2 separate regions of the Homo sapiens genome follow, and region 2 is linked to region 1. The links come from fine-mapping of genetic effects on gene expression. A gene starts in region 1. The other region holds a variant in brackets. All regions are shown on one strand. Distances are between the middles of the regions.

Region 1 (16,121 bases):
AAAAATTAAGAAAATTTTTATGCTAATTAATTTGAAAGCTTAGATGAATTGGGCAAATTTACCTTGAAAAATAAAAATTACCAAAAGAGGGCCAGATGCAGTGGTTCATGCCTGTAATCCCACACCTTGGGAGGCCGAGGCAGGTGGATCAGCTGAGGCCAGGAGTTCGAGACCAGCCTGGCCAACATCATGAAACCCTGTCCCTACTAAAAAATATTTTTTAAAAATTAGCCGGGCATCGTGGCAACTGCCTGTAGTCCTAGCTAGGAGGCTGAGGCAGGAGAATCGCTTGAACCTGGGAGGTGGAGGCTGCAGTGAGCCAAGATCACACCACCACACTCCACCACAGGTGGCAGAGCAAGACTCCATCTAAACAAACAAACAAAATTTAAAAAAAAAAAATTACCAAAATACACTCAAGAATAAATACAAAATTTCAATAGCATGGAAATCATTAAAGAAACAGACTTTGCATATTGAATTGGTTTTACAATGTAAATAGTTTGTTTAACTGAATTCAAATGAATACTTACGAAAGAAATAATACACTCACAAACACTTTAAGAAAATAAAAGAGAAATAGGCCAGGCACGGTGGCTCACACCTGTAATCCCAGCAGTTTGGGAGGTCGAGGCGGGCAGATCACGAGGTCAAGAGATCGAGACCATCCTGGCCAACATGGTGAAACCCCATCTCTACTAAAATACAAAAATTAGCTGGGCATGGTGGCACTGGCCTGTAGTCCCAGCTACTTGGGAGGCTGAGGCAGGAGAATCGCTTGAACCAGAGGTCAGAGTTTGCAGTGAGCCGAGATCGTGCCACTGCACTCCAATCTGGCGAAAGAGCCAGACTCTGTCTCAGAAAAAAATTTTACAAAAATAAAAAACCTCCCTGGTGATTCTTTGCTGAAGTCCTCCCTAGCCCCTGCACTAGACAAACACTGGTCTGCTTTCTATCAAAATACATTTGATTTTTTTTCTAGCATTTCTTACAAATGGAATCAAAAAGTGTGTACTTTTTTGTATCTGGCTGTTTTGCTCAGCAAAATACTTTAGAGATTCATGCTGTTGTTATACGTATCAATAGTTCAGTTGTTTTTATTGCTGAGTAGTATTATGAATATACCACAATTCATTGTCCATTATCTTCTTGTTGGATATTTGGAGCTTTTCTCCAGTTTTTATTTACTATAAAGAAAGTTGCTGTTAGCATGTGTGCAGAAATAATTTTGTGGGCATATGTTTCATGGTAAATACCTGAGAATAAAATGGGTGAGTCATGCAGTAAGAGTGTGTATTTATACCTCATAAGAATCTACCAAAGCATTTTTCAAAGTTGCACCATCTTGCATTCCTGCCAGCAATGGGGAAGAGTTTGTTTCTGCAAATTTCCTCGAGCAATTTGTATTGTAAGTTTTTCTTAAATATTAGCAATTCTAGCTAGTATGTGGTCAATTCTTACTCTAGATACAATGTGCCTTTTTAGGACTGATTATTATGGTAAGCATTTTTTCATGGACTTATTGGCCTTTTGTGTCTTATTTGATCAAGTTTCTGTTTAAATCTTTTTTATTGAATTGTTTGCTTTCATATTATTGAGTTTAATATGTCCTTTTAAAATTTTTGTATTATGGGTACAAGTTATTTGATGCGCACAGGTATTTTTTCAGTCTATTGCTTGCATTTTCATTTGCTAACACTGTCTTGAGCAGATTTTCATATTTTTCAAGTTCAGTTTCTCATTGTTTTGGTTGATGATTCATGATTTTGTGACAAAACGAATAAATCATTATATATACACCAAGATTGTAGAATTTTTCTTCTATGTTTTCCACAAGAAATACCATTTTAGCTTTTATGTTAAGCTGTATAATATACTGTAAATTAAATTTTTGTATGGTGTTATATAAGGGTTGCAGTTCATTTTCTCCATGTGAATGTCCACTGTTCCAATTCTATTTGTTGGTAAGATTAGCATCTCTTCAATTAATTAGATTGGTATCTTTGTTGAACCATACAGGTGTGGAGAAATCAGGACTGTGTGATTTGATAAATTGATCTATATATTTATATTTACATCAATACGTGATCTTTGTTACTTTAGCTTTACAGTAAATATTAAAATAATGTAGTTTAAGTCTATCTTTGTTCCTCAGAAACGTCTTGGCTATTCTAAAATACTGGCATTTTCATATCAAAATAATTTTGTAATTTGTCTTTACAAACCATTCTAGGTTTTATATTAGGATTATGTAAAATTCAGTAGATAATTTTAGGGAGAATTTATATTTTGATAATGAGAAGTTTCCAATTGTTGGACATAGTGAATATCTCAATTTACTAAATCTTCTAAGTTCCTCCAGAAAAAAAAAATGATTTTACAGTGGATAATTAAGGCATATGTATTATTATAATTATATAAGCATATATATCATTATAATTATTCCTAAGTATTTTAAGTTTTTATGCTATTGCATATGGTATTTATCTTTTAAGATTCCATATTCCTTTCCTTCATTAATTTTCTGTGTGTGTGTGTGTATGTATCTACCTGTATTATTGCTGTGTGTATATCCATATGTAATTGATTTTGGTATTCTTTAACCTTGTTACAGTCACATGTATATAACTTAAAATGTCTATATACAATGCCATATTGTTTCAGAATAAAAGAGATATTTTCATTACTAATATTTAGGGGTTTTTATTTATTTCTCTTTTTTTTCTATTTATACTAGCTTTAAATATGCAATGTAATCTTGAGCAAAAGTGACAATAACAGACATCCTTGACTTTCCCCTAATCTTAGGGAGAAAGTAGTCGGTCTTTCCCCATAAAGGCTAAAGTTAACTGCAGGTTTTTCTTCCATGTTCTCATCATCTTAAGTACATTTTCCTTTATTCCTAGTTGATAAGAATGTCTTTAATGAATAGTAATCAAATTTTGTGATATTCTTCTTCACTTTTGATATGTCAATATATTGAATTCAATAGTCTACAGATTTTTGAATCCATATTCTTGAAGAAATTTGACCTGCTTTTTCATTTTTATAATGTTTGCTATAGTTTTATTATTATGGTAATTATCAAATTATAAAGTTGAAAAGTTTTTCCCTTTTTTTGCTTTTCTGAACAAAATTATACAACATTTGTAATACTTGTTACTTAAATATTTGAATCCACCATTGATGTCATCTAGGCCTGGAATTTTTATGGGAAAACTTTTAATTATAAATCTAATTTACTTAGTGATATAGAGCCCTCAGGTTTGTTCCATTCCTTGTGAATAAATATTTGTATTGGCGTCTTTCAGTAATTTTTCCTCTATATTCTCAAAGTTTTTGCCATTAAAGTGCTCATAGTAGTTTCTTACTACCCATGTATGTCTATGCCATCTCTAATCATGTTACCTTCTTTCAGCCCTACTATTGGTAATTTGTCTCCTGTTTTATCATTTAAGCAAAAGTTTCAGTAATTTTATGGATCTTTTCGAAAAATATATATATTGTTGCATTGATTTTCTCTTTTGGTTGTATGTTTTCTGTCTCACCAAATTTCACTCTTATCTTTATTATTCCCTTACTTCTTAGTTACTTCAGGTTTAATTTCCTTCTTATTTTCCAGCTTCTTAAAGTTCACATGTAGACTATTGATTATAGGCATTTCTTCCTATGTACATAAGCATGTAGTTATACACTTTCTTATAAGCACTGCTTTGTATCTTCCAAATTATTTGTTGTGTCTTTATTTTCATTCAGTTCAAAATATTTTCTAATATTCCATCGAGATTTATTATTTGATCCACGTGTCAATATGAAGTGTGTTGTCTTAATTTTCAATAGAGATTTCACAGATATTTTTGTTAATAATTTCTATTTTAATTCTATTGTAATCGAAGAACACCTTCTTTATAATTTTACTTATTAAAAACGTATTAAAGCTTGTTTTATCTTCCAGCATATGCTGTACCTTGTGAGTGTCCCATGTACACTTTAAAAGGATGTATACTCTACTATAATTGGGAGGAGTATTTTTACAAATGTCAATTAAGTTGATTTGGCTGATAGTTGTTCACATTAGCTATACCCTTTCTTGTTTTCTACCTTAGTGTTCTGTCAATTACTGAGCATGGAGTGCTGAAATCTCCAACTATAATTAGGGATTTGTCTATTTCTCCTTTATTTTCTGTCAATTTGACATTTGTGTATTTTGAAGTTTTGCATTCATATATGTATATTTAGGATTGTTGTGTCTTCTGGATGAAAACATATTCTTGAACTTTGTATCATCATGATATGTCCTGTTTTAATATTTCTTATTTTGAAGTATTTTTTTCTGATAGTAACATAGACCCTCAGATGTTATAATACCTGCATTATCTCATAGTTTAAAATGTTTTGACATTTTACTTTTAAATGATCTGCTTTTTTTTTGTATATTTACAGGAGTCCCTTTTTTTGTTGGTGTTTATTTATTTATTTATTTATTTATTTATTTATTTATTTTTGAGATGGAGTTTCGCTCTTTTTGCCCAGGCTGGAGTACAATGGCATGATCTTGGCTCACTGCAGCCTCCACCTCCCAAGTTCAACTGATTCTCCTGCCTCAGACTCCCAGGTAGCTGGGATTACAGGCACATGCCATCACACCCAGCTAATTTTATATTTTTAGTAGAGACAGGGTTTCACCATGTTGGCCAGGCTGGTCTCGAACTCCTGACCTCAAGTGATCCACCCACCTCAACTTCCCAAAGTGCTGGGATTAGAGGCATGAGCCACCACGCCTGGCCCATTTATATTTTTACAGACCACATAATTACATTGAGATCTTGTAGTGAGCCTATATTTAGGCCCTGATGTTATATACAGTTGGACAATCTCTGTTTTAATTCTACTATTTATTTGTATTTAATGCAATTTTTAACATAGTTGAATTAGTGTCTTGCATCTTGCTGTTTGTTCTCTATTTGTCCAATCTGTTCTTTATTGTTTTGTTCCTCTTTTTCATCTTTCTTTTGGATGGCATACACTTAGTATTCCACTTTATCTCAACTCTTGGCCTATTATTTCTTTGGCATTAAATTTCTTTGGCATTTCTGTATTTTTTTCCCCATGTCAACAAAATGCTTCTTTCATTCCTCACAATATATCTTCAAATAATAATTCTTCATGTAAAATGTGAGAGCCTTAAAGTAATGTGCTATCATGTATAACTTCAGTCATTTGTGTTATTGCTGCCACACATTTTATTTCTACAAATATTATAAACCCCACAATACATCGGTTTTGCATTTAGATAAGTCAATTATATTCTTAAATGAGAAAATATACTTTACTATTTATCCACAATAGTAAAAGTCTTTTAGATTTTGGAAGCAACACATACCACATTTCAGTGTGTGACTTTGACTCATTTACAGAATTACCTGTAGATTTCAAGTGAGAAGAACAAAAGAAAGTGAGTTCAGACTGCAGGTTAAGCTAATCCACCACTTGGGGCTTATGATCCAGCAGACCCATAGATTGTCAAACTGTCCATGGCAAATAAGGATGCTCTACAGAGCATCTGGCAAGCAACAATAGGACAAAAAAAAAACACTACACAGATGTGTAAGATTTTGAAATAAATCTATCCTCTCTTCTGTAGTTAATGATTCTTCTTTTGAACAGGTTTGGGACCAGGCCTTGGTAAAGAATGAGCACCTAACTATGGGATGTCAGGTGATTGCACAGCCTGAGATTTCGATCATGGGCTGGGTGTTGGATACTCACCTAGCTATAAGGTTGGGTGCTTTATTTATTTATTTTATTAATATTATTATTATTATTTTTGAGATGGAGTTTCACTCTTTTGCCCAGGCCGGAGTGCAGTGGTGCAATCTTGGCTCTCTGCAACCTCTGCCTTCTGGTTTCAAGCGATTTTCCTGCCTCAGACTCCCAAGTAGCTGGAATTACAGGCACCTGCCATCACGCCCTGCTAATTTTTGTATTTTTAGTTTCACCATGTTGGCCAGGCTGGTCTCGAACTCCTGATCTTGTGATCTGCCCGCCTCGGCCTCCCAAAGTGCTGGAATTACAGGCATGAGCCACTGTACCCAGCCTGACATTGGACGCTTTATTATCAAACAGAAATGGTACGTAAGAGATCAAGCTCAGGCTTAACATGAGGGTCTAACTGAGTTCCTGTCCTTAAGTCCTAGGCAGTATTTTGTGTTTTCCTTTACGTCCTTTCTTAGACTCATCTGTAGCTTGGGATTACCTGGGACTTACACAGTGTCCATAAAGTCAGGAAGTATAAACATATATAATGTCACAAAGACATCTTTGATCTGTTAAAAAAACAAACAGAAAAAAACTCTGTGTCTGTGTGTGTGTCTACAATTTGTAAACACTCTGCAGTTCAAGCCATGAGCCATAACTTAAAATCTACTGGAGAGGTTTGTTGAGATATTTTTGGTCTTTGCTTTTCTGATTAAAAAAAAAAAAAGGCAGACACACCAGAGATGGCTCTATGTTCCTTCACTTGTTCCCATCTCTCATCTTTGATTGTAGAAATTGTTTAGAGTGGCAAATCATCAAACACGGAATGCTAATAAAGCTCCATAAACTTACGTCTGCAGTTTTGAAATCCAAAAAGCTCCAGAAAAATAATTTTTAAAAGCTCACTTGGAGGTAAAACCTGAACTAAACTAACATAAGACGGTTTAGTGTTTCTCTTACTGGGAGTAATAAAAAGTTTCACTCAGAAAAAATGAGTTTAGTTATCAGGTGTTTCCCAGTCCCTTGCTGGGCTCTATATAATACATGGCACATGCACCTAATTTCATTTCTAAAATCAGGAAAATGTGTGAATTTAAAACACATCTGGCACTAAGGGTTTCAGATAAGAGACTGTGTGACAATTGTTCTTAGTTCTGCCATTTTCCCTGGAAAACAATCTTTAAAGTTCACAGAGCACATCAGCAAGAATTTTTAAAAGGAGCCTAATTGTGATATGGTTTTGTTGAAATACAAGGCAGGTGTAAAAGGAAAATAAATCTCAGGACTCCAAAATTACTAAGCCAAAGGTAAAAGTCAAGCTGGGAACTGCATCAGGCAAACCTGCCTCCCAGTTTATCCCTAAATAAGATATTTACAAAGATAAAGCTACATACTTCCCTCATAATTTGCCCTCTAGGGATTCCTTGTGGGCTGCAAGATCTTTACCCTAAAACGGTTCTGTTGAATTTTACCCTGACAACGTAAATTGATAGTTTATCTTCACAGGTGCGAGACAAAGGAGCGAACCCCAAGTCATCCCTCTGCTCACCTGAAACAAATGCATATCTGATTGCTTCCTCTGAGGTAAAAATGCAGATTGACAAAGCTAGATGAAGGCGTAACTATTCCTCTACTCCCCTGATAAGGTTTGGATCTATGTTCCCACCGAAATCTGATGTCGAATGGTAATCCCCATTATTGAAGGTGGGGTCTGGTGGGAGTTGATCGGATCTTGGGGGTGAATCCTTCATGAATGGTTTAGCATCATCCTCTTGGTGACAGTGACTGAGGGAGTTATTGCGAGATCTGGTTGTTTAAAGTGTGTAGCCCTGGGCTGGGCATGATGGCTCACTCCTGTAATCCCAGCAATTTGGGAAGCTGAGGCGGGTGAATCACCTGAGGTCGGGAGTTCAAGACCAGCCTGGCCAACATGGCGAAACCCCATGTCTACTAAAAATACAAAAATTAGCCGGACGTGGTGGCGGGCACCTGTAATCCCAGCTACTCCAGAGGCTGAGGCAGGAGAATTGCTTGAACCCGGGAGACGGAGGCTGCAATGAGTCAATAACATTTTGCCATTGCACTCCAGCCTGGGTAACACAGCGAGATTAATAAATAAGTTTGCTTATGAGATGTTATTTTATTGTACTTTTTTACATGTTTATTATATATTATATACTTCTAAATGTATTAGGTAAATATATTTTGTATGCACATAAATTTATCCATTGTTTCTGTTATATAAATTTAATATTTATTACTTATCGATTACCTATTGTATATAAAGCACATGATGCTACACTGGTATTTGGAATTCATTACCCTAACTATACTGTAATTAAAATAATTATCCTAACTAGTACCAAAGGCTTCCCCTTAGCAATCACTCGAAGTGTGCCAGCACCTCCACTCACTTCACGTCAAGCGATTCCCATCATTGTTTCACTGATGGAGAAACCAAGGCCCAGGGCACTTGGGGCAAGGCGTTCAGGGGGCTTTCGGTCCGGAAGCAGCGTCGGGGCGGGAATTCGAACCCTGGGTTCCCACACTGGCCCGTGGCAGGGCCCCCAAGCCTTTTCCCAAACTGATCACAGAAAGTGACGACCCGTTCGCCCGGCGGACCGGGGGCGTCGGGCAGGTCCTGGTCCAAGTGAGTGCCCGCCCCTGCCCTGGGCTGGCAGAGTTCTTCCCCCAGCTGCAGGTAGACGTGGGAACCCGGCAGGGTACGGAGCTGCTGGCGCGGCACGCTGATTAGAAGCGGCGACTGCCCGTCAAGCATTCGCGCCTCTCCCCTCCCTTGACTTTCTTGGCAGGGTTAAGGGATAAGAGAAAGTGGAGTTGCCTCAGTTCTGGGAGAGCCCGTTTGTGGGTCCGGCACAGGTATCCATCGGGACTGACGCTGCAAAAGTCCTCTTGTGAAACAAGGAATAGGCTCGAGTCTTCGATTGGGTCGAGGGAGACGTCAATCAATGGATGGGCGTGTGCAAACGCAACACAACGCACAGTATTGGTTAGGATTTGGCGGGGGGAGTAGACAGCGGGGAAATGAGGCGGCTCATCTCGATTGGCCCAGAAAGAAGACGGTCGCGCCCTATGTACTCCGGGATTGGCTAGAGCGAGCCGCGTCCCCCCTCACGCCAACCACTGGTAAGCGAAGTGGGCCTCGCTCTCCCGGGTTAGCAGCCGTAGCCAGATCCGTTGAAAGGAGTGCAGAGAGGTCTCATTGCGCTCCCGAACAGACCTGACGTAGATCCGAAGTGGCCCGCGCCATCTCAACTATGAGGGGACACCCGTAGGCGGCGGGAGAGGGACGCCGCGAGGAGCCAATAAAGCTCCGCAACCGGAAGTGTCTTCTGGGAGGGGTCGTACCCGGAAGTGTGGCACCTCCCGGGCCGCACCCGGAAGTGTGATGCCACCGCCGCTACGGGGAAGTAATGGTATCCGGCCAATTGAGATTCGGAGTTAAAACAGGTGTTTGTATATCTCTATTTCCTGAGGCCCAGTAGAGTCTCCTCTTTTCGGAAAGTGTTGGAGGGGGGACGTATTTGGGCATGATTTTGGATGTCTCGTCCTATTGAAATCCGTGGGGAAATGAGCAGTAGGAGTGTGTCCAAGGGGGCCTGACTCTATAAAGGCTTTTCAGAAGTTTCTTTCACCGCCCGTCACCCTCGATTCCCCTCCCACTCAGGGATGTGCAGATGGAGGTCGGAGGAGACACTGCTGCCCCGGCCCCCGGGGGCGCGGAGGACTTGGAGGACACGCAGTTCCCCAGTGAGGAAGCTAGAGAAGGTGGAGGGGTTCACGCGGTCCCGCCGGATCCCGAAGACGAGGGCCTGGAGGAAACAGGTATGACTCCACTTAGTGGGGTCTTAAAAGGAATCCTTAGGGGTTGTCATTGTTGGACGGGGGAAGGGTCAGTGGGTGACCAGTAGGGAGTCTTGGGACTTAAGAGAAGTGGCTTAAACCATCGCCGGGTCAGGAGGAGGTCACTGTGGACACATGGTGTAGTTTACATCATTGAGGAAGTCATTGGCTGTCAACGGATGTTCACTGGGGGTTTGGTGTGAGTTTAGGTCATTGAGGAATCAAAAAGGGGGCTGTTAGGACCAAAGAGGGTCACTGAGGATTTAGAGTGTTTAGATCAAAGAATGCGCTGAAGAAAGTCAATAGACTCAACAGAGGAGGACTGTTGAGAAGTTAGTGTTTTTGAGGAGTAGGGTGTTATTTATTAAATAATAGAAGTGGGAAGGGGAATCAGTGGAGTTCGATGGGCACTCAGAGTATTTACATCATTGAAGTCACTTGTAGACTGTTGGGGAAGTCTTTAAGGGACCAAATGTTAGTGGATGTGTAAAGTTGTTCATTTGAGATTTAATGGAAGTCACTGAGAAGTCTGTGCCATTGATCACTTTGGAATTAGTGGATGTAAATGGAGTCATTGGGAAGGATCAGTGGACCTCACTGAGAATAAATGTGGATGGGGAGGTTGAGGACTTGGGAATTAATAGCAGGTAAGAGCAGTTATTAGGAGGGAGTAAAGATATTTGGGGACATGGGAGTGTCAGTGAATGTCAGTGACAGAATATGCAATTATTGGGATTTTATGGGAAAATTATTGAGACATAGTTGCACATGGATAATAATGGTTGTCATTGGGGGATGAATGGAAATCAATGGGAATAAATGGATGTGTCAGTAGGGGCTGTTGAAGTTGTGGGTTTTAGTGAATGTTAATGATGGTCATGGGTAGGGGCAATGGAAGTCATTAAAGTCTTGTGTGTTAGTGGATATTATGATGGTTACTGTAGGGAGGGGAGTGGATACCAATGAGATTGAAGGTGGTCAGGGGAGTGACTGAAGGTCTCTGAAGTGCTGGGTGTTAGTGGAGGTTAATGATGGTCATTGTTGGGGGTAGGGGGGAGTAGACATGGAGTAGAATAACTTGTGGATCAGGGCAGTCATGGAGGGTCATTGAAAAACCAGGTGTTAATGATTGTTAATGTGGGGTCATTGGGGTGTTTGTGAACCACAGTGGGAGTGAATAGTGGATTAGGGGAGTCCTAAATATCTGGGTGTTAGTGGATATTAACGACAGTCATTGGGAGAAATAGTGGACATTACCAAGAATATAAATGGGCAACCAGGAGAGTTAGTAGGGGTCATCAGGTATCAGTGGGCATCACTGATAGGGTAGTAGCGGGGGTTGGGGCATTCAAACAGTTAAGATATTAATAGATGTTAATGGTGGCCATTGGGTGAGCAGATATCAGGAGAAAAAATAGCGGTCAGAGGAGTTAATGGGGGATCATTGAAGATGAATAATCGTCATCCAGAGTCAATGGGGTGCTTTGAAGACTTTGGAATAACAGTGATTGAAAGGGAAGTAATTGGTCTGTAGGAACATAGCAAGTCCAGTGGAATAACAATGAGAATATGTTGGTTTATTAGGGTTTTAGGAAGTTCATTGGAACCTAAATGTTAGTGGAGATCATTGCGGGGTCCTAGGGCAGTCATCGGGTCATTGAGGGGCATAGGAGACACTTGGAGTTCTGCGTCAGCATGCAGGGGTCATGGAGGGGCTAGTAGATATTTGGTGGGTCCTTGGGGATGTGGGATTAGTTAGGAGTTCACATGCAGATGACCCACCAGGGGCTCCCTTTCAGGATCCAAGGACAAGGACCAGCCACCCAGCCCATCACCACCGCCCCAGTCAGAGGCCCTGTCAAGCACCTCTCGGCTCTGGAGTCCTGCAGCCCCTGAGAATAGTCCCACATGTAGCCCTGAGAGTAGCTCTGGAGGCCAGGGCGGGGACCCCAGTGATGAGGAGTGGCGCAGCCAGCGGAAGCATGTGTTTGTGCTGAGTGAGGCTGGCAAGCCCATCTACTCGCGGTATGGTAGTGTGGAGGCGCTGTCGGCTACCATGGGTGTAATGACCGCCCTGGTGTCCTTTGTGCAGAGTGCGGGAGATGCCATCCGTGCCATCTACGCTGGTGAGCAAACAGGTGGGAGGCAGAATGGGGGACAGTGACTGGGAATATGGCTGGCACGGGTAGGTCTGTCTGCCTCAGGCACTATCCAGCCAGCCAGGGTTGGGTCCATGTGTGTGGATGGTCAGCCAGAGCTCTGTCAGTGGCGGGAGGTGGGGGGGTTCATCTCTGTCTGGCCTGCTGGTTTCTTAGTGATTGACTTGCTGGGATCTCAGTGACTAGCTGGATACTTCTGTGTCACCTGAGAGGATAACTGTGGGGGCTGTGTGGTTGAGCTGTGTCTTTCTGGCTCTGTGTCAGCCCTTGTACCATCTCTACCCGCCTGCCCGTGGTCTTTGCTGTGTATCTAACCTACTTGTTCCTTTGTCCATCCCATCATGTCTCTGCAAATGTCCAGATTCCTCCAGCTTGTCCTTACCCCAGTCCAGGTGCCCACAGAGTGAGCATGTGGACTCGGGCCTGGTGTGTGTATGGTAGGAGAGGGCAGAAGAGCCCCACTGTCTCCCTCTGGTCATTCCTGATCCAGCTGTACCCCCCCTTCTTACCCCTTCCTTCCCTAGAGGACCACAAGCTGGTGTTCCTACAACAGGGCCCACTGTTGCTCGTGGCCATGTCACGGACTTCTCAGTCAGCAGCCCAGCTGCGGGGGGAGCTGCTAGCTGTGCACGCACAGATCGTGAGCACACTTACACGTGCAAGTGTCGCCCGCATCTTCGCACACAAGCAGAACTATGACCTCCGCCGCCTGCTGGCTGGTTCAGAGCGCACACTGGACCGACTTCTGGACAGTATGGAGCAGGACCCAGGAGCCCTGCTCCTGGGTGCCGTGCGCTGTGTGCCCCTTGCCCGCCCGCTGCGAGACGCACTAGGTGCGCTCCTCCGACGTTGCACAGCGCCTGGCCTGGCGCTGTCAGTGCTGGCAGTAGGCGGTCGACTTATAACAGCAGCCCAGGAGCGAAATGTGCTGGCCGAGTGCCGGCTGGACCCAGCTGACCTGCAGTTGCTGCTCGACTGGGTGGGTGCACCAGCCTTTGCGGCGGGTGAGGCTTGGGCACCTGTGTGCCTGCCCCGCTTCAACCCTGATGGTTTTTTCTACGCCTACGTGGCCCGCCTGGATGCTATGCCTGTCTGCCTGCTGCTGCTTGGCACCCAACGTGAAGCCTTCCATGCCATGGCCGCCTGCCGGCGCCTGGTTGAAGATGGGATGCATGCCCTTGGTGCCATGCGTGCCCTTGGGGAGGCTGCCAGCTTCTCTAATGCCTCATCAGCCAGTGCTCCTGCCTACAGCGTGCAGGCTGTCGGGGCGCCGGGCCTCCGGCACTTCCTGTATAAGCCGCTGGACATCCCTGACCACCACCGCCAACTGCCCCAGTTTACCAGGTAGGCCCTGACCCTAAGGCAACTGGCTGGGTGGGAAGGCCTGTCAAACCAGGAAGTTCAGCATCTCAGGGATGTGACTCAGGAGAGATAACCAGCCATGCTTAAGAAAGAGGGAAGAGAACAAGTCTCTGTCTGATGATGGAGCATCAGCCACAGACCTAAAGGAATCCCCCTCTTCTGGTGGACAGCAGGGCCCTAGTACTCAGGGAATCTCCTAGTTTGATGAGGGAAGGTCAGCCTCCAACCCCTGAGAATCCTCAAGTCTCATGGGAGAGGCTCAGCTCCCTAACTTCATTGAAATCTCTAGACTGAGGGAGGAAATGGGCCAGCCAAGAAGGCCCTGGACTAACCTTGTCCTCCACCTCCCTCCATCATGGCAGCCCTGAGCTAGAGGCCCCCTACAGCAGAGAGGAGGAGCGGCAGCGGCTGTCGGACCTGTACCACCGCCTGCATGCTCGTCTCCACAGCACCTCCCGACCCCTGCGCCTCATTTACCACGTGGCTGAGAAGGAGACACTACTGGCCTGGGTAAGTTGGGCAGGGCTCTGAGTGAATTAATTCCCCACTTCAAGCCTCCTTTCCCTATATTGTATCCCCTCCAGCCACAGTGCCTCCACCAAACACAGCAGGCCTCTGGCTGGGCTGTGCCTTGCCTGCAACACTGTCCCTGCCTTTACACACACATCTTTGAAGCCCCTGACAACTAATGACCGTGTCTCTAATCCGACATTAGCCTCACCCTCCTGTGTGCTTCTCCCAGATTAGCAACCAGGACAGTGTCTTTGACTTTCCAGAGGCCCCATTAACTACCACTGCTGTGCCTGCCGATTCCCCAGTAGCCCAATCCATGTGTTTGGAGGCACCCCATTCATCACCAGCTCATTGTGACTCCATGAGTCCCCAGCACTCCTCAGACTACAGGCGTGGTCCCTTGCTGTGCCCTCCACCTGGGGTATCCTTCCCTTTGGTCTCCTCTGGGCTCCAGCCCTCACTTCCTATGGGTTTGCTAAAGGTCAGCTACTAAGGGAGGCCAGTGAAGGAGGCCTCATCAGAAATGGCACCTGCCATGTAATGCATATTTATTAATTTATTGCGTGACTGCTGTGGATCAGGTATTGTCCTAGGCTAAGAATTTTGTTTTTAAATTTTTTTAACTTTCATTTTCAAATAACTTTAGACTTAGAAGCTGCAAAAACAATATAAAGAGTTTTTATATTTATATTTATAAAGAGTTATAAAGGGCGTGGTGAAAACCACGCCTGGTCAGATGGTGGTTTTCCTAACTCCATCATTCTTTCTACATTTATTGGCTGGGATTTTACTATAAAGAGTAACATGGGGCCGGACGTGATGGCTCACGCCTGTAATCCCAGCACTTTGGGAGGCTGAGGCAGGCTGATCACTTGAGGTCAGGAGTTCGAGACCAGCCTGGCAAACATGGCAAAACCCCGTCTCTACTAAAAATACAAAAATTAGCTGGGCGTGGTGGTGCGCACCTGTAGTCCCAGCTATTCATAAGGCTGAGGCAGGAGAATCGCTTGAACCTGGGAGGTGGAGGTTGCCGTGAGCCAAGATCGCGCCACTGCACTCCAGCCTGGGCGACAGAGTAAGACTCCATTTCAAAAACAAAAAGGAATAACTTTTCCTTCTCCTATTTATTGAATTTTTAATTTTCTATCAATATTGTCTCATGGATTTTTCTTTAATTCAGTGAGCTAAAATCCTTCTCTAGCATTTATTTTGGTGTTCAGATTGCCTCTGATTTAGCCGGTGGGTACCCTGATTTAGCCAGGCTGATCCCTGTGTCTCTGACACGTCCCCTTCACTATGTGAGCACATCTTACTTGACTTTCTCTATTCCAGTCCTCAACTCAGCCATTTTTCCATGGAGCCCTTATACCTTTTAGTAGAGATTGGAATTTTAAAACCAAGATATGGGCCAGACACGGTGCCTCACGCCTATAATCCCAGCACTTTGGGAGGCTGAGTCGGGGTGGGAGTTGGGGGGAGTGGGCGGCGAGTCACAAGGTCAGGAGTTCGAGACCAGCCTGGCCAACAGGGTGGAACCCCATCTCTACTAAAAATACAAAAAATTAGCTGGATGTGGTGGCATGCGCTTGTATCCCAGCTACTCGGGAGGCTGAGGCAGGAGAATCGCTTGAACCTGGCAGGCGGAGGTTGCAGTGAGCCGAGACCGTGCCACTGCACTCCAGCCTGGGTAACAGAGTAAGACTCTACGTCAAAAACAAAAAAACAAAAACAAACAAAATATATGTTAGGAGCAGAATTTTAAACCAAGTGATCAGGGTGGCCTCCCTGAGCAGATGGCATCTGAGTGGAGTAGGGAGGTATTGAGCTACGTGGATATTAGGAGGAAGAGTACACCTGGCAGAGGGAAAGGACTGATATGCTATGAGGTGGAACCAAGCCTGGCTATGTTTGAGGAATAGCAAGGAAAGGGTAGAGTGGCCGGAGCAGAGGGAGTGAAGGGGAGCGCTCTGGGAGGTGGCACAGGAAAGGCGCTAGTGACCTTGTGGGGTCAGGCCTCTCCATGTGGTATGAGGCATAAATTGAGTTCCTCTTTATATTATTCCCTGGCTGTAGATGATGAAAACATAGTTGTAGGAGCTTAGAGCAGGACCTTGTACACAATAGGTTACTGACAGAATATTAAACATTGTTACTGTTTTCCCCAGTTCCCAATGAGCAAACAGGTCTAGAGAGTACCCACACACACAACCAGCATCATCCAGTTGAAGTCACTAGGTCCAGCTGAAATTGCACAATATCAGCTTACCTACCTTAGCCCAGTATCTAGGCAGCACCTGGTAGGAGGTGCTGCCAGGTACATGTTCCAGGTTGCAGGAGGCAGACATGCAGCTGCACTGGGGTAGGCAGGATTGTCCATAGCCAGCTCTGGCCCATCTGACTCTGTCTCCTCCGAAACCCCCAGGTGACCTCCAAATTCGAGCTCTATACCTGCCTCAGCCCTCTGGT
Region 2 (16,121 bases), 28 kb after region 1:
ATTTAATTATTCGTTACTAATTTCTTTATCAAATATATTCCCTCCATTGGTCTTAGCCTCAGTCTTTTTCTGTTGGCTATCCAGCTCCTTTGATATCCATTCACTTGCTTATTTGCCTCCTTATTTTAAGCCCCAGTCATCCATTTGCCCACCCATTCATCTATCCACCCATCTAGCCATTCACCTACTCACTCATTCATCCATTCATCCATCTATCCAACCATGTCATCCAGCCAGATGGCTGTTTTATCTCCGGCCTTCCACCTAACAATCTTCCATCCATCCAATCATGCATTCATCCTCTCTTTATTCTTTCCATCATATATTCACTTAGCCAAACATCCATCCAGACATCTACCCTTCCTTTTAGCAATCCTTTCTTTCTCTGTCCAGCCACTATTCCTCTACTCATCATTTCTCCAATCAGCTATCATTTCTCCAGCCAGCAACTCACACATCCAGTCAACTGTCTATCCAACCTGTATCCATCCATCTCTTCATCCTCCCGAGTAGCTGAGATTACAGGCATGTGCCACCATGCCCGGCTAATTTTGTGTTTTTAGTAGAGATGGGGTTTCTCCATGTTGGTCAGGCTGGTCTCGAACTCTCGACCTTAGGTGATCCTGCCCACCTTGGCCTCCCAAAGTGCTGGGATTACAGGCGTGAGCTACCACACCCGACATCTTCTGAACTTTTACCTAGCACACTCCTGTTACCAGAGGTCTCTCATCCTGGTGCACCATGATTTTAATTGCATGGGGAAACCTGATGTTAGCTAATGTGTGATACTCAACCACACTACTCACACTGTATGATGAGCATTTATGCTCATTTATGTACCTAATCCTCACAATGATAATTATAGGAGTTAAGGCTAATGTCACCCTCCCATCACTACCACCATTTTACATATTAGGAAACTGAGACCCAGAGAGGTTAAGTAACTTGGCCAGGGTCTCGGTGAAGTAACAGATTAGGGTTCAAGCCAGGATGTTATAGAATCTGTGGTGCCAAATTACCACACGCCTCACAAAGCTTTCTTGGGAAGGCAGAGTTCATTCCATGGGGGACAGGATGGACAGGGTAATGTTCTCAACAGAGGCCCATGAAGGTTCTCATTCAACAGGAGAAACAAGAAAGGTGAATGCTGTGAACAGACATCCCAACTCCCACTCCTGCTGGAGTGAATGATGGGTCATTCAGAGAATATGACTGAGGGTTGTCTTTCCCTTCCCAGGAAGCACATGCTGCAAGAGTGCATGGAACAAATTTTTGCCCATAATTCTCAGGTTTCAGAGTCTCAAACAGAGGAATCTGGGGTAACTCCCAAGCCTGGGGCCTGGCAGGCCACTGTGTAGAAAGTGGGAACAGGGCTTGCATCAGGGAGAGTTTGTTGGAAGAGGTGCTACGGGAACCAAAGCTTAGAGGATAAAACCCATGAAGGGGCTCCCAGCAGAGGGAGCATGGGCAGGATCTGAAGGCCTGTGCATGAGGAGCCCCCAACAGGGTGTCAGGCCTAGCATGTGTTCTCTTATTCCTGGGTGTCGGCCTCCAGGTTGGATGTCAGAGGACAGCTGGAGGATCTGATGGGCCAGCACAAGGACCTCTGGGAATTCCACGTGAGCCATTATCATTGCCTGCAACCAAAGCCACTCCTCCCTGGCTTTAGTGTCGCACTGACTGGCCCAGAGTCCACCCCTGCCCAGGCTCAATGCCGCGGGATAGTCCTTGATTCCTTGCTTCCGCTTGCCCACCTATTCAGTCCCTCAGCTTTTATCTAAAATCAACTTACGCCTCACCATGCCCCACTGCCACACCCAGCATCACCTGCCCAGACGGGTGCAGTACCATTGTGATCCTGCTTTCCCCCTGCTCATCTAGTGTATGTTCACCTTGCAGTGGCAAATGGCAGCCCAGGGAAAGCCATGGTCAGGTCATTCCTTCATTTAGCTAATGTCAGTGGTTGCACCGGTCAGCATTTGAGGCAGGGAGGGAGGGTAGCAGATCAAAGAGTCCACGTCTTTGCTGTCCCAAGCTGGTTGGGGACGGTGGAGGCACCAAGAAAGTTAGTGGCTAGATCGTGGAACTTCAGTGGGAAGGCCTCTAAGCAAGTGACATCTCAACGCAGAGGTGAAGGAAGTGAGGGAAGAAGCCGTGCAGGTATCGGTGCAGAAGGAAGGCCCTGGGGCTGGACGGTGCCTGAAACCGTTGAGGAGCCGCAGATTGGGGAATGGAGGATGAGGAGAGTGGGAAGAGTTCAAGTTTGAGAGGTGCCTGGAGACATGGAGAGCGTTTAGGGGGAGGTGGGTGGGTCTCCAGCCACAGCAGGAACTGCACATTGAGTTAATAAATAGTTGAATGAATGAATGACCTAATGTAGGTGAAGACTTCGCGAGAAGCACAAAAGGGGAGGGGCGGGCCGTGTAGCCAAGAGGACGGCCAAACGGGGAGGCCTCCTCTTTGTCCTCGCAGATGCTGGAGCAGCGACTGGCCCGGGAGATCCGTGCCCTGGAGAGAAGCAAGGAGCAGCTGCTCTCGGAGAGTGAGCCTCCCGCGCCAGGTGGGCGGGGGGAGGGGGATGTGCCCGGGCCTCGGCCCTGCCCCTGACGCCCGCCCACCGACAGGGAGGCTGGTGCGCGCCAAGCTGCGGGAGGTGGAGCGGCGGCTGCACTCGCCGCCTGAGGTCGAGGGCGCCATGGCGGTGAATGACGGGTGAGAGGGGAAGGGAGGAGTGGGCGAGGAGGGCAGGGGCAGGGCGGAGGGGAACCCGCCCAGGTCCCCCGCTCCGCCCCCGACTGCCGCTTCCCCGGCCTGTGCCTCCCTCGGCGTCGTCGGGTCTCCGCGTCTCGGTGGCTTCCTCCTCGTCCCCTGGACTCTCGCTCTCTTCCTCCTGTCTCCTCGGCCCCTTCTCCGCAGGCTGAAGGCGGAGCTGGAGATATTCGGGGAGCAGGTCCGGAGCGCCCCCGAGGTCGGGGCCGGCGAGGGAGAGGTAGGGAGCCCGAGGAAGGGAGGCGGGGCGGGCAGGGACCGAGTCAGGAGAGAGCGGGCGGGGGTCCTGGGAGCGGCCCCCGAGAGTGGGGTCTGTGGGGAGCAGGGCGGCCCCGGGGACAGAGGAAGCCGCGGTGGAGGCCTAGGGCAGACGCGGGCGGACGCGAGGAGCGTAGGAACCTGGTCCGCAGCCTCACCCAGCCCCCGGCAGGCCGGACCTGAGCTCCCCCGCGCTCGCGACGAGGAGGATCCCGAGCCGCCGGTGGCTGCCCCTGACGCCCTCTAGGCCAGCAGGACCCGCCCGTTCCCGACCTTCCCTCGAGACCCGCCAAGAAATAAAGGCGATGATTTCCGACCATGCTCGCGTTCTCCGCGGAGTCTGTGCTACACCGTGGAGCGGGGCGGGGCGTGCTGGGATCTCGAGGCGGGGCCTCTGCCGGACCCCTCCCACCAGTCGAGCCCCGGGCGCCGTACAGAGGCTGGGTAAATGCTCCTGAACTCAGAGAGAGTAAGTGGGTGTCAGTATCCCCCGCCCCACGGCCTCATCTCGAGTTCCCAAACCATCTATGTTGTCAACAGGGGCCGGAGGGCAGGTGTTAACCCATTCCGGTCCTCGGGGCCTGTGCGTCTCCGGTGGTCTCAGGAAACCCAGAGTCTCTGCAAGACCCGCAGACTCGCGCTGGCTCTGGGACATGCCCGCCCATCTGAGCTCCCCTCACAAATTGGGTTCTAGCCAAGGCTGCCTCTCCACCCGTCTCAAACATTCCAAAACACGTGTCCCCTCGGGGCCTTCGCCCTACTGGTCCTTCTCTGGGGTCACATCCCCCAGGCAACCTCAGATCTGTTAAATGTGTCCGCCACTCTGGAGGCCGGCATTTGGGACCCAAATCCAAAGGCACCCAGCAGCAGGCTGCGGCCATTGACTGAGCATGTACTGACTAAGCAGGCATTTGCCGATTGCCTGCTGGGTACCAGGCACTGTTCTAAGCACTGGATTTTAAACAGCGCGGTCAGCGACGGCCTCACCTAGGAAGTGGTATCTGAGCGGAGAAGCGAGGTAGAGAAGCGAGGGGGTGAGCCCTGTGGGTGTCTGGGGAAAGGTGGGCCTGGCAGAAGACATGCCTCATGCCAAGGCGGGAGGTGAGGCTGCACTTCGCTGTGTTTGAGGAGACGTCTGGAGAAGGCCGGCGTGGTAGAGTGGAATGAGGTAGAGTGGGATGGGAGACGACACTGGAGAGTTGCCAAGGACCAGTCAAGTTGGACACTATCTAATGTGTGTAGAAGAGGACCTGGCACACAGTCAGTATTCAGTGAATGCCAGCTCTCACATATTGTTGGGATGATTCACTATTCCCAGTCCCTAGAGAATGGGAACTGAGATGTGTGACTCACTTAGATCAGAGGCTTCTGTCCATTAAGTGATCAGTAAGTGGTTCATATGATTTATTATTATTATTCCCAGGCTACAGATGAGGAACACTAAGGTGTGTATATCTCTCAGAACAGAGATTTTTATAACATAAATGCTCAATAAATGGTATCTATCATTTATTATTCTCACTGCTATTCTTGCTGTTATTCCCAATTTAGCGATGAGGAAAATTGAGATAGTGAATCTGTACAGTAAGCCCTCAATAAACGTTGGGTCTCACGTTTGTTGCCATTATTATCCCAAGTCCACAGATGAGGCCCAGGGAGCTTTAGTCCCCGAGTCACCACTCGCATCCGGGCAGAGCTGACTCCAGGCCCAGGCTGTGGTCCCCTGCCCCACTGACACCACCTACTTGCTAAGGCCAGTCTCCAGGAATCTCTAAGGAACTTCAGTATCCTCTTTGTCATCCTCTCTGTGTCACACAAATGGGGTCAGCCTGGATATTCTGCCGATTTACCACTGGGCACCTAGGATTCGAGTCCTGGTTTCCCTGTTCACCAGCTGGATGACCTCAGGCAAATTGCTTAATGTCTCTAAAACGCAGTGACCAGCTGGGTGCTGTGGCTCACGCCTGTAATCCCAGCACTCTGGGAGGCTGAGGCGGGTGGATCACGAGGTCAGGAGTTCAAGACCAGCCTTGCCAAGATGGTGACACCCCTTGGTTTGGTGGTGGCAGGTGTCTGGAATCCTAGCTACTCAGGAGGCTGTGGCAGAGAATTGCTTGAACCCGGAAGGCGGAGGTTGCAGTGAGCCAAGATGGCGCCACTACACTCCAGCCTGGGCGACAGAGCGAGACTTTGGCTTTTGATTTGCCCTGTGTTCTCCTGACTCAACTGACCTTCCTGGCAGGGCTACTTCTCCTTTCATTGAAATAATTGACAGCTGCCTGGGAAGTCTTCACTCACTTCCTGTAACAGCTTTTCTCAGGGCTTGCATTCAATTACCATAATTCTCAAGCTTCTTGGCTTGTAGTTCAGGTTCAAATGTGAATGAGCCTGGGGGAGCTCAGTGTTGCCAAAAGGCGGAAGGACATTCTTTTTATTATTATTATTATTTTTATTTATTTATTTATTTATTTTTGAGACGGAGTCTCGCTCTGTCGCCCAGGCTGGAGTGCAGTGGCGCCATCTCGGCTCACTGCAAGCTCCGGCTCCCAGGTTCACGCCATTGTCCTGCCTCAGCCTCCAGAGTAGCTGGGACTACAGGTGCCCGCTACCACACCCGGCTAATGTTTTTCTGTATTTTTAGTAGAGACGGGGTTTTACCGTGTTATCCAGGATGGTCTCGATCTCCTGCCCTCGTGATCCGCCCGCCTCGGCCTCCCAGAATGCTGGGATTACAGGCGTGAGCAACCGCACCCGGCCAGGACATTCTTGAAAAAAGTAAGCCAGAAAGAAACCCACTGAAAAACAGAGGAGTCAGAGGAGGGGCCCGAAGAGATGCAAACATAGCACATCCTGAGTAGCAAGCTAGACAAGGCATGGAAGAGAGAGTGGCCAAAGTGACTGCAGTAGAATCTCCCGGAGGATAATAATATTACTACCTAATAGAGCACACTAGTTAGCAGAACAGAACCCAGGGCCAGACTGTGTTTGTTAGAATCCCAGCTCTGCTGCATACTAGCTGTGTAACTTCAGGTTACACAGTTAGGTTACTTAAATTCCCTTTTTTTTTTTTTTTTTGAGATGGAGTTTCATTCTTGTTGCCTAGGCTGGAGTGCAATGGCGAGATCACGGCTCACTGCAACCTCCACCTCCTGAGTTCAAGGGATTCTCCTGCCTCACCCTCCCGAGTCACTGGGATTACAGGCGCCCACCTCCACACCCAGCTAATTTTCGTATTTTTAGTAGTGACGGGGTTTCACCATGTTGGCCAGGCTGGTCTCAAACTCCTGACCTCAAGTGATCCACCCGCCTTGGCCTCCCAAAGTGCTGGGATTACAGGCGTGAGCCACCCTGACTGGCCGTTCATAAAGTTTTGAGGACATGTAGCATGTTACGTTTCAGAGAATCAAAGGCATCCACCATTTCTTTTTTGATCTCTCAATTTTGTGTTCATTTAGATTTCAGACAGCAATCAAAACATCAAGTACAGGTGAATACAATCCCAGGCCACCTTTTCCTGGGAACCTGGATATTGAGCTCTTACTTTTCTCCATTCTAGGATCTTGTTAAGCAGTGATGCTAACCAGTGAGTAGAACAGTGAGAGGTCCGTGCATATTCTATTTGCTGATCTACCAGCTGTTTTAAGGGACTGGTCAGTGGCAGAATTAACATATTTGCCATACCTACAAAATTCACAAGTACCTAGACTTCATTTTCCATTTTCCTACAAAACTCAAACTCTGTTTTTGTGACCTATTACTCACCGTAATCCTACCCAGCATCTTTCTCATTGGAATCTTGAGTAACATTTACCCAAAGATTACATTAGTTCCATTCTTCTTCCTTTCATTATCAAGTCATTATTAGATGGAGATGATTTGAATAGCCTAGGTGCCTGTTTTTTGTCTTGTAGTCCTTCCTTGGTGTTAACTCTGAAATTAATTTATCTCTTTTTTTATTTTTATTTATTTATTTTTTGAGATGGACTCTCACTCTGTCGCCCAGGCTAGAGTGCAGTGGCACAATCTCGGCTCCCTGCAACCTCCACCTCCCGGGTTCAAGCGATTCTCCTGTCTCAGCCACCCAAGTAGCTGGGACTACAGGTGCCCACCAACACGCCCGGCTAATTTTTGTAGTTTTAGTAGACACAGGGTTTCACCATATTGGCCAGGCTGGTCTCAAACTCCTGACTTCAAATGATCCACCCACCTTGGCCTCCCAAAGTGCTGGGATTATAGGCGTGAGTCACCATGCCCTGCTAAAATTAATTGATTTCTTCCAAGTGTGTGCAGTCATGTTTTACTTCTGTGATCAGACCTATTTAAGAGTTATAAAGATTCCTTCCAATTGTATCTTATGAAAGCCAGTAGGCATTTAATGACCTTCTTTTCTGGAGTCATTGTCTTTATATTTTGTGCCTCATTTTTGGAAAGCCTGTTTTACTTTCCGTGTGTCTTCTTATTTCTAAAGTCTTATTAAACCTACATTATCTAAAATGCCCATTACCTATAAATTTCTCTTCCACTCTGAGATTAAATATCTTTCTCAGTGGTTACCTTTATATTTTTAGAACATTTTATTGTTTAAAAATCACAGTCAAAGCTTCAAAAAACATACACCCCAAAATATCCCAATTTCAGTATCCTACTACCCAGAGGAGAGCACATGGCTGTTCTTCCCCTTCTGGTGCCCACAGCACTAGCGAGGACCCTGCCCTGAAGAGACCACTTGCCCACCCTCCTGCCCACCATATGTTAAGTCACCGTTTCTAATACATTTATTTATTTATTTATTTATTTAGTAAGATGGAGTCTCGCTCTGTTGCCTAGGCTGGAGTACAGTGGTGCAGTCTCGGCGCACCGCAAGCCCTGCCTCCTGGGTTCAAGCAATTCTGTAGCAGCGTCCCGAGGAGCTGGGATTACAGGCACCCACCATCCCATCCAGCTAATTTTTGTATTTTTAATAGAGACGGGGTTTCACCATGTTGGCCAGGCTGGTCTCAAACTCCTGACCTCAGGTGATCCACCCACCTCAGCCTCCAAAAGTGCTGGGATTATAGGTGTGAGCCACTGCTCCCGGGCCCTAATGCTTTTATAATTTAGTTTATATTTGAACTATTTGGAATTTATTTTGTGTCTGTACATAATCTGGAGAGAATTTACTGAATAGCACATGTATCCCCCCAACTGCAATGCCATCCTCGCCATATACCAAATAATCATGTCTATTTTGGTCAATTTCTGAACTGTTTATTCTATTCCTTTATCTAGTTACCTATTTATACACAAATACCAAACTTTTTATTATTATACCCTTAAATAATATTATGAAACTCACTTGGTGAGACCTCCTCTATATTTTCCTACTGTTTCAGAATTTTTCAAGGGTAGTTTCTTTCCTATGCATACTCTAGAATCATATTGTCTATTTCCAAAAAAAAAAAAAAAACAAAAAAACAAAAAACCTGACTGGGCGCAGTGGCTCACAGCTGTAATCCCAGCACTTTGGTGGGCAGAGGCAGGCAGACTATGAGGTCAGGAAATCAAGACCATCCTGACTAACATGGTGAAACCCTGTCTCTACTAAAAATACAAAAAATTAGCTGGATGTGGTGGCACAAGCCTGTAGTCCCAGCTACTAGGGAGGCTGAGGCAGGAGAATCACTTGAACCCAGGAGGCGGAGGTTGCAGTGAGCAGAGATCACGCCACTGCACTCTAGCCTTGTGGCAGTGTGAGACTCTGTTTCAAAAAAAATTAAACAGCAGCAACAACAACAAAAAACCCCTATTATTATTTGATATTTGTATTGAATGAAATATATACATTAACATGCAGGAAATTAGTATCATTATATTGAGCCTTCTAAAGGAGAAAAGAGTCTGTTTTATCTGTTTAGTTTTTTTTTTTTTTTTTTTTGAGATAGCGTTTCACTCTTGTTGCCTAGGCTGGAGCGCAATGGTGTGATCTCAGTTGACCACAACCTCCGCCTCCCGGGTTCAAGCAATTCTCCTGCCTCAGCCTCCTGGGTAGCTGGGATTACAGGCATGCATCACCATGCCCAGCTAATTTTGTATTTTTAGAAGAGATAGGGTTTCTCCATGTTAGTCGGGCTGTTCTCCAACTCCCGACCTCAGGTGATCCGCCTGCCTTGGCCTC[C/T]CAAAGTGCGGGGATTACAGGCGTTAGTCACCGCACCTGGCCTAATTTTTATTTTATGTGTTCTTCTCCTCTGTATATCTCTTTGAATTCTATTTTACCTGATAATAATGTTGCTACAGTAATTTTTTTTTTTTGAGACTGAGTCTCACTCTGTTGCCCAGGTTGGAGTGCAGTGGCACTATCTCGGCTCACTGCAACCTCTGCCTCCTGGGTTCAAGCAATTCTCCTGCCTCAGCCTCCCGAATTGCTGGGATTACAGGCACCTGCCACCATGCCCAGCTAATTTTTTGTATTTTTAGTAGAGATGGGGTTTCACCATGTTGGCCAGGCTGGTCTTGAACTCCTGACCTCAGGTGATCCACCCACCTCAGCCTCCCAAAGTGCTGGAATTACAGGCGTGAGCCACCACGCCCGGACAATAAATGTATTTTTAGGAATATTTTTCTTCGTATGTTTCTTTACTTGACTGTCTATTTAGGTATCTAATTTTTCAGGGTTTGTTTAATAAAACTATACTGTCATTGATAATTCATAGCCTAATGAGGAAGGCAACCCAGGACAAAGGGTTCAAAGACACAGGTACATACTAGAGTGTGGGGAGGCATGCAGGCACATCCTAATGCAGGTAATGTTGACTACGTTGTTAAAGGCAAGTAGGAATTAGTCAAGCAAAGAAGAGAGCAAAAGAAACTCCCTGTTGAAGAAGGTCATGGCAAAGCGAGAAGGCATGAGCACTGTGAGTATGATACATAAATCTCTACATCAGAATCTTTTGATCCAGTGTTTAGTTTATGACAAAAGATAAGGCCAGAAACCTATGTACAAACAAGATGATTAAGACCTTTCCTGCCACATCAAGCTGATGGAATTCTACCTCGAAATGTGGAAGGGATACACTAAGAAATATTTAGCTATTAGAACCTGAGGGCCTCTTTGATACCTGTTAAAAGTTGAACAGGTCCCCATTCTTAATAAGGCATCTGGTTCAGTGTAAATTCTTAGAAAATAATTGTCATTTGTGTAAATAATCCAGGAGAAGGCAGAGGTCAGGAAATGTTTTTCTTAGCGGGCCAAATAGTAAATATTTTAGACTTTGCAAGCCAAGAGGTGAAATTGAAAGTATGTAAATACTTGTATAACCATTTAAAATGCAACCATCTAAAAGTATTAAAACATTCATAGATTATAAGCCCTATAAAATTACTAATGGCTAGATTTGACCTGTAGGCTATAGTTTGTGGACTCTTGGCCTAGAGAATGGATATTTAAATTTTTAAGGGAGTATAATGCTTTCATTATGAAAGAAAATGGAAAATAATTCGTTGGCATGTGGAGAAATGAACAATGAGAGAAAATGTTATTTTGGGAAATAAAACCAAGGAGAGAATTGGCATGTTAGTTTGAAATTATTGCTTCTGTAACATGCTAAAAAGCATGACATTTGAGTATAGCACTGAGATGGACAAGGTGCCCTACAAGGCCAAAAATGACTTTTTTGTTTCTGGGAATCAGTAAGGATTTATGAATCTTGAACAAAAAACCATTGCTTTGTTTTTCAGATACTATTCAGTATAAGAAGTGTCCAGATGATCAATATCAGAATAGTCAGAGAATTTACTGTCTTCCAAAGGATGTGAACTTCTTGGCTTTTGAAGGCCCTTTGGGGATGTCTCTGGCCTGCACAGCCCTGCCTCTCTGTCCTTACTGCAGTGGTCCTTGGGGTATTTGTGAAGCAGCAGGAAATCCCCTCGGTTAAAGCCAGTACATGGGCTTTCAGCTGCACCCTGCTGAAAGTCTGGCCTCCGTCACACTGTGCTTCCTCTGCTCTGCCCTATGCATTGGCCACCCCCACACAGCTACGTGGTGACTCCAACAAATAGCATTTGGAGTTGTGTTTACTATGGCTATTTCTATCATTCTGACCAAAACCATCACTGTAGTTCTGGCTCTGAAGGCCAGAATGCCAGGGAGAATAAGATGGTGATTGGTATCAGGATCTCCTAATTTTGCCCTTTTTATATTCTCCCTAATCCAAGTGGAATCTGTCTCCTGATCTGTCAGCTCGGGCTGAGAAACTTTCCTCCCTTCATTGACACAGACACACTCTCTAAGCTTGGATCTGTAGTTCTCACACGCAGTGAGGTTTCAGCACTGTCTTCTACCATGTCCTAGGATACCTGGGCTCCTTGACCCTGGGGAGCTTTACCTTGGCTTTCCTGGCCATGGGTTTGCCTGACACCTTCAATAAGTCAAGTTCTTGATGTTCAGCATGCTGGTGTTCTGCAGTCACCTCCCTCCTTGCCGACCACAGCATCAAGGGGAAGGTCCTGGAAGCCATGGGGTTCTTCTTCATCTTAGCTTTCAGTGCTGAGCTACTTGGCTGCATCTTTGCCCCCATATATTACGTTACTCTTATGAGATATGAATACCTTCCAAGGTCTGAAGATTAAAATAGGTTCTGGAAGCAGTAAGAATTCCAGAGTTTTATTTCAAAAAAGGGGGAAAAAAAAAGAGGCGACATCCTGAATTTAAAAATTCACTATTATCACAATCAGATGCAAGTTAATAATTGAATCAAACTCACTACCTCCGAAGATAAAGTCAGTCTCATGTCTTTAAAGGAATTAAGAGCAATACCACTCTCAGTTATCCTGTTTCATAGTGTGAATGTTATGGACATTTCCCATCCATGCCTTTTTCTTCAATGTATGTAATCTTTCATGCGGCATTTCTCTTCCTTTTTATGTAATAACAACCTACATAACCCAGTGTCTTCAGCCAACAATCTTGCCTAATTTTCCAGTTTGGAGATTGTTTGCCTTCACGGGCATTCCTTTCCCTTCCCCTGTAAGCTCTATTGCCTAAGATTCCAGCCATCTGGGTTGTGAGTGGAGTCATCCAGAAGGAAGCAGTGTTAGAATAATGGTGGCTTTTTCTCAGTGGCTCTACCTCCTCCTAGACAAATCTATTCTGCTTGCAGCCTCCATCGAGTGATCCCAGGCGCTGGGCACTGTTAACTCTGACTCCCTGATAATTTCTCTCTCTCTCTCTTTTTTTTTTTTTTTTTTTGAGATGGAGTCTCCCAGTCACTCAGGCTAGATTGCAGTGGCATGATCTTGGCTCACTGCAACCTCTGCCTCCCAGGTTCTAGTGATTCTCCTGCCTCAGCCTCCCAAGGAGCTGGGATTACAGATGTCTGCCACCAGGCCCAGCTAATTTTTGTATTTTCTTTTTTAGTAGAGACAGGGTTTCACCATGTTCTCCAGGCTGGTCTCAAACTCCTGACCTCAAGTGGTCTGCCCACCTCGGCCTCCCAATGATAATCTCTTTTTAACTGCTACTCACATGTTTGGTTCTCAGATCCTCCAGCACCTGCAATTCCTTGCTGTATTAGTCCAGGTTCTCCATAGGAAAAGAACCAAAAAGATACACACAGACACACACATATATGGAGAATTATTATGGGAATTGGCTCATGTGACTATGGTGGCCGAGAGGTCCCACGATATACCATTTGCAAGCTGGAGAACCAGGAAAGTCAGGGTGTAATTCAGTCCAAGTTGGAAGACCTGAGAAAGAGAGGAGCCAGTGGTATAACTCCCACTCTGAGACTGAAGGAGGCACTGGCTTAAGTCCCTGGAGTCTGAAGGCCTGAGAACCAGGAGCTCTGATGTCTGAGGGCAAGAAAAGATGGATGTCCCAGCTCAAAAAGACAGTCAATTTACCTTTCTTCTGGCTTTTTGTCTTATTTAGATGGGCCCTCAATAGATGAGGTGATGCTCCGCAACACCGGTGTGGGTGAGTCTTCTTCCCTTAGTGGACTGATTCAAATGCTACTCTCTTCCAGAAACAGCCTCACAGACACAACCAGAAGTAATATTTTTCTATCTCTCTGGCTGTCTCCTATCCCAGTCAAGTTGACACATTAAAATTAACAATCACACCTGCAATTATATTCCCTCTGCTTTAAATAAATTCTATCTTTTTATCTGATTAGACCCTGACTGACAATCTTGCTACCAGGAGAAGTGCCAGGAAACACATCTTCCTATGGGATTCTGGTTGGGGTTGGCCTGCTTGTGCATGAACACAATCATGATCTTATTGCAGGTGGAAAATGGAATACTGATTCTAGCAGATAGGGTCAGCGCCTACCTGTACTCACTTGTCTTACACCTCATTGCACGCCAGGCCGGCTTCCATCTGCCAGGACATAAATTCCTTTCCATGACATTTTTCCATGACATGGATGCTGAAGTATGCCTGGCCTATTTGTCTGGTGGGCTAGAAGTGTTGCAGAATGAATTTCTGCCTCCCTAAGCCTCAGAACAGTCTTCATCTATTGACCGATAGGATTGGGTGTATATGCCAGTTAACAATGTATTGCCTCTCAGCTCCAAATTCACCTTTACCACCTGCCTTGTGAAAATGGATCAGGCCCTTGAAACAGTTTCCTTTGCCAGCTGACACGATGTTAAGCTTTGCTCAGTAGAGGGCGCCAGGGAGACGTTTCTGCTTTGGTTCTGGTCTTCCGGCTAGGTAGGTTTCTGCAGGGTGGACGACTTCTCCAGCGCAGGTTCCTGTAGCGCATGGCAGCCAGCAGCGTCCCAAGACACCATCTTTGGTAGTTTTGTAGCAGTGACTCTAGTGAGACACCTCTCCATGAACAACGTTCCCCAACACCTCAGAAGATGGATTTCTGGCAAGGTTTAGAGGGCAGATTTCCAGAAAGTTCTACAAAGGCAGCACTACAGCAACTTCTTTGCCCTTCAGTGAGTCACAGCCATGACCTGTCCAACTAGGACCTGACCTCACCCTGTGGGTAGAGGGTCTCCCTTGGACGCTCCAGCTCAGCCCTGCAGGCAGTAGCTGCTGCGTAGGTCGGCTCTTTCTGTATGCTTCAGAGTTTTCTTTGCTTTTTCCTAGTGAACCCCTCACTGCCCCAATATCCCATTTTAGTTAATAATGATGTATTTTAAACTTTATCTGTTCAAATTATTGCATAGTTTTTCTCCCTTGATAGGACTCTTACTGTGCATAAATTCTCCAGCTCCTTTGGCGTTTGGCTGGAGTAAGTTTGAGGCATGCTTTTATTTATTTATTTATTTATTTATTTATTTATTTATTTATTGAGATGGAGTCTCGCTCTGTCACCCAGGCCGGAGTGCACTTGTGTGATCTCAGCTCACTGCAACCTCCGCCTCCCGAGTTCAAGTGATTCCCCTGCCTCAGCCTCCTGAGTAGCCGGGATTACAGGTGTGTGCCACCATGCCCGGCTAATTTTTGTATTTTTAGTAGAGACAGGGGTCTCACCATGTTGGCCAGGCTGGTCTCGAGCTCCTGACCTCAAGTGATCCGCCCACCTTGGCCTGCCAAAGTGCTGGGATTACAGGCGTGAGTCATCGTGCTCAGCCAGGCGTGCTTTTTTAATACTGGCTCCAGGGTATCCCCAGTGGCTTGTTAAAAAAATACATCATGGGCTGCTTTTCCTTTCTTGCTGTGGGAATGTAAAAGGACCTGATGAGGATGAAAGACACGACTTGTTGACAGCCCTGGGAGTCTAGAAGGAGGTGGAAGTCAGAAATGTTGCAGTTGTTCAGAACGAATTCCTAGTACTGTAACTAGGCCAGTGCTGGCATGGAAATAGAGATTACCTACACACCCCAAAGGGGGCTTAGGCCTGCATGCACCTGGTGATTGAATGTGAGATCGAGAGGGCTTTCCAGCAATAGAAATATACACCTTCCTATTGCTCCAAGATGCCAAGCAGAAAGTCAACATACATTTGAATAGGTTCTATCAAAAGAACAATTCCTTCTCTGATGTGGATCATGAAGTAGCAATTATTCTATCTCTATTCCCATGCAAGCTAAGCGTATGCATAGAGATGACCATTTCTGGGTTATGTCTATGTCATAAACTTGTTTAATGCAGTTGCTGCCTTGGCATCCGTTGTTAGGCCTGACATAAGTTGTTTGAAGTCCAGTTGTACCCTGTCACCTTTGGTCTAGTTAAAACTTCCTCTCCCCATGTGGCTGTTTGCAATATAGCCCACTTGTTCCTCATCCCACTGAACCCAAACCCAACATATCCCACAGCTGCTGACTGTGATAAAACCCAGTGGCCAACACCAGAGTCGTGTAGGTAAGTTCCCTTTCTCACACGTATTTTCCTTAAACTAGCAAATTCACAACCCCCTGTGGAAAGCCTAAGTGAGAACACTCCTGGAGCCCCTAGACCTTGATAAAGGCGTGCTCCTGCTGGTCATCTCTCATGTCATGCATTTCGTTTTCCCATTTTCCTTCTGTCTCTCCTGACTGGCACACCTGAACCTTAACTAGGACATAAGGAGAATAGGAAACCAAAATGCAAGGTCCAGGGGCTCCAGGAGTGTTATCACTTACAACACGCTCTCCTAGAGAGTGGCTATCTTGGCAGAAATAAACTGGACACAGATCAGACAAGAGCCACAAAGCGTGTCTGCTGGATTTCCTTTGAGAGAGACAGCTGGCTATGGATCAGACTCAGGCATTAGGCTGTCAATCAGGATAAAGAAGCATCATGTGAAAGACACACTGTAAACACCTGTGAACATCTCCCCTGGAGCCCTAGCAGGGCCAAGCTTTATCGCCACTCTCCAGAGAGTCCTGAAGAGCAAATTAGAGGAAAATCTCAACAGTACAGTTATTCATCTGAAGAAAGGCTAGAGAACAAAAGTAATAAGCATCAGAAACACACTTGTTGGTATGGTTTGGCTTTGTGTCCCCACCCAAATCTCATCTCAAATTATAATCCCCATGTGTCAGGATAGGAACTTGGTGGAGGGAGGTCGTTGGATCATGGGGGCAGTTTCCCCCTTGCTGTTAGTGTGACAGTGAGGGAGTTCTCACGAGATCTGATGGTTTACAAGGTGCAGTTTCCCCTTCTCTCTTTCTCTCTC

Evidence for each region. PIP is the estimated chance that this variant, and not a neighbour inherited with it, causes the effect.
Region 2: its variant is fine-mapped to the expression of MON1B in thyroid (GTEx, PIP above 0.99).

What each region holds. Positions count from the first base shown.
Region 1 is chr16:77,182,031-77,198,151 of GRCh38, forward strand. It overlaps MON1B (MON1 vesicular trafficking associated B), which reads left to right and starts at 9,160. Exons shown (of 6, transcript NM_014940.4): 1 at 9,160-9,228; 2 at 9,446-9,603; 3 at 11,421-11,747; 4 at 12,305-13,124; 5 at 13,505-13,652; 6 at 16,078-16,121. The coding sequence starts at 9,456. It overlaps LOC124903725, which reads right to left and starts at 8,536. Exons shown (of 1, transcript XM_047435021.1): 1 at 7,878-8,536. The coding sequence starts at 8,536. The coding sequence ends at 8,192. RefSeq lists enhancers at 8,878-9,826, 8,952-9,241, 9,262-9,311, 15,030-15,199.
Region 2 is chr16:77,209,658-77,225,778 of GRCh38, forward strand. SYCE1L (synaptonemal complex central element protein 1 like) reads left to right here. Exons shown (of 11, transcript NM_001129979.3): 7 at 1,556-1,619; 8 at 2,473-2,542; 9 at 2,625-2,712; 10 at 2,917-2,989; 11 at 3,200-3,558. The coding sequence ends at 3,274. LOC124903726 (a long non-coding RNA gene) reads right to left here and starts at 2,474. Exons shown (of 2, transcript XR_007065121.1): 1 at 2,372-2,474; 2 at 1,930-2,274. It also overlaps the pseudogene VN2R10P. RefSeq lists silencers at 2,474-2,833, 2,894-3,223, 3,334-3,423, 3,454-3,503 and enhancers at 2,581-3,554, 10,819-10,928. The variant C/T (reference allele first, on the strand shown) is at 9,182.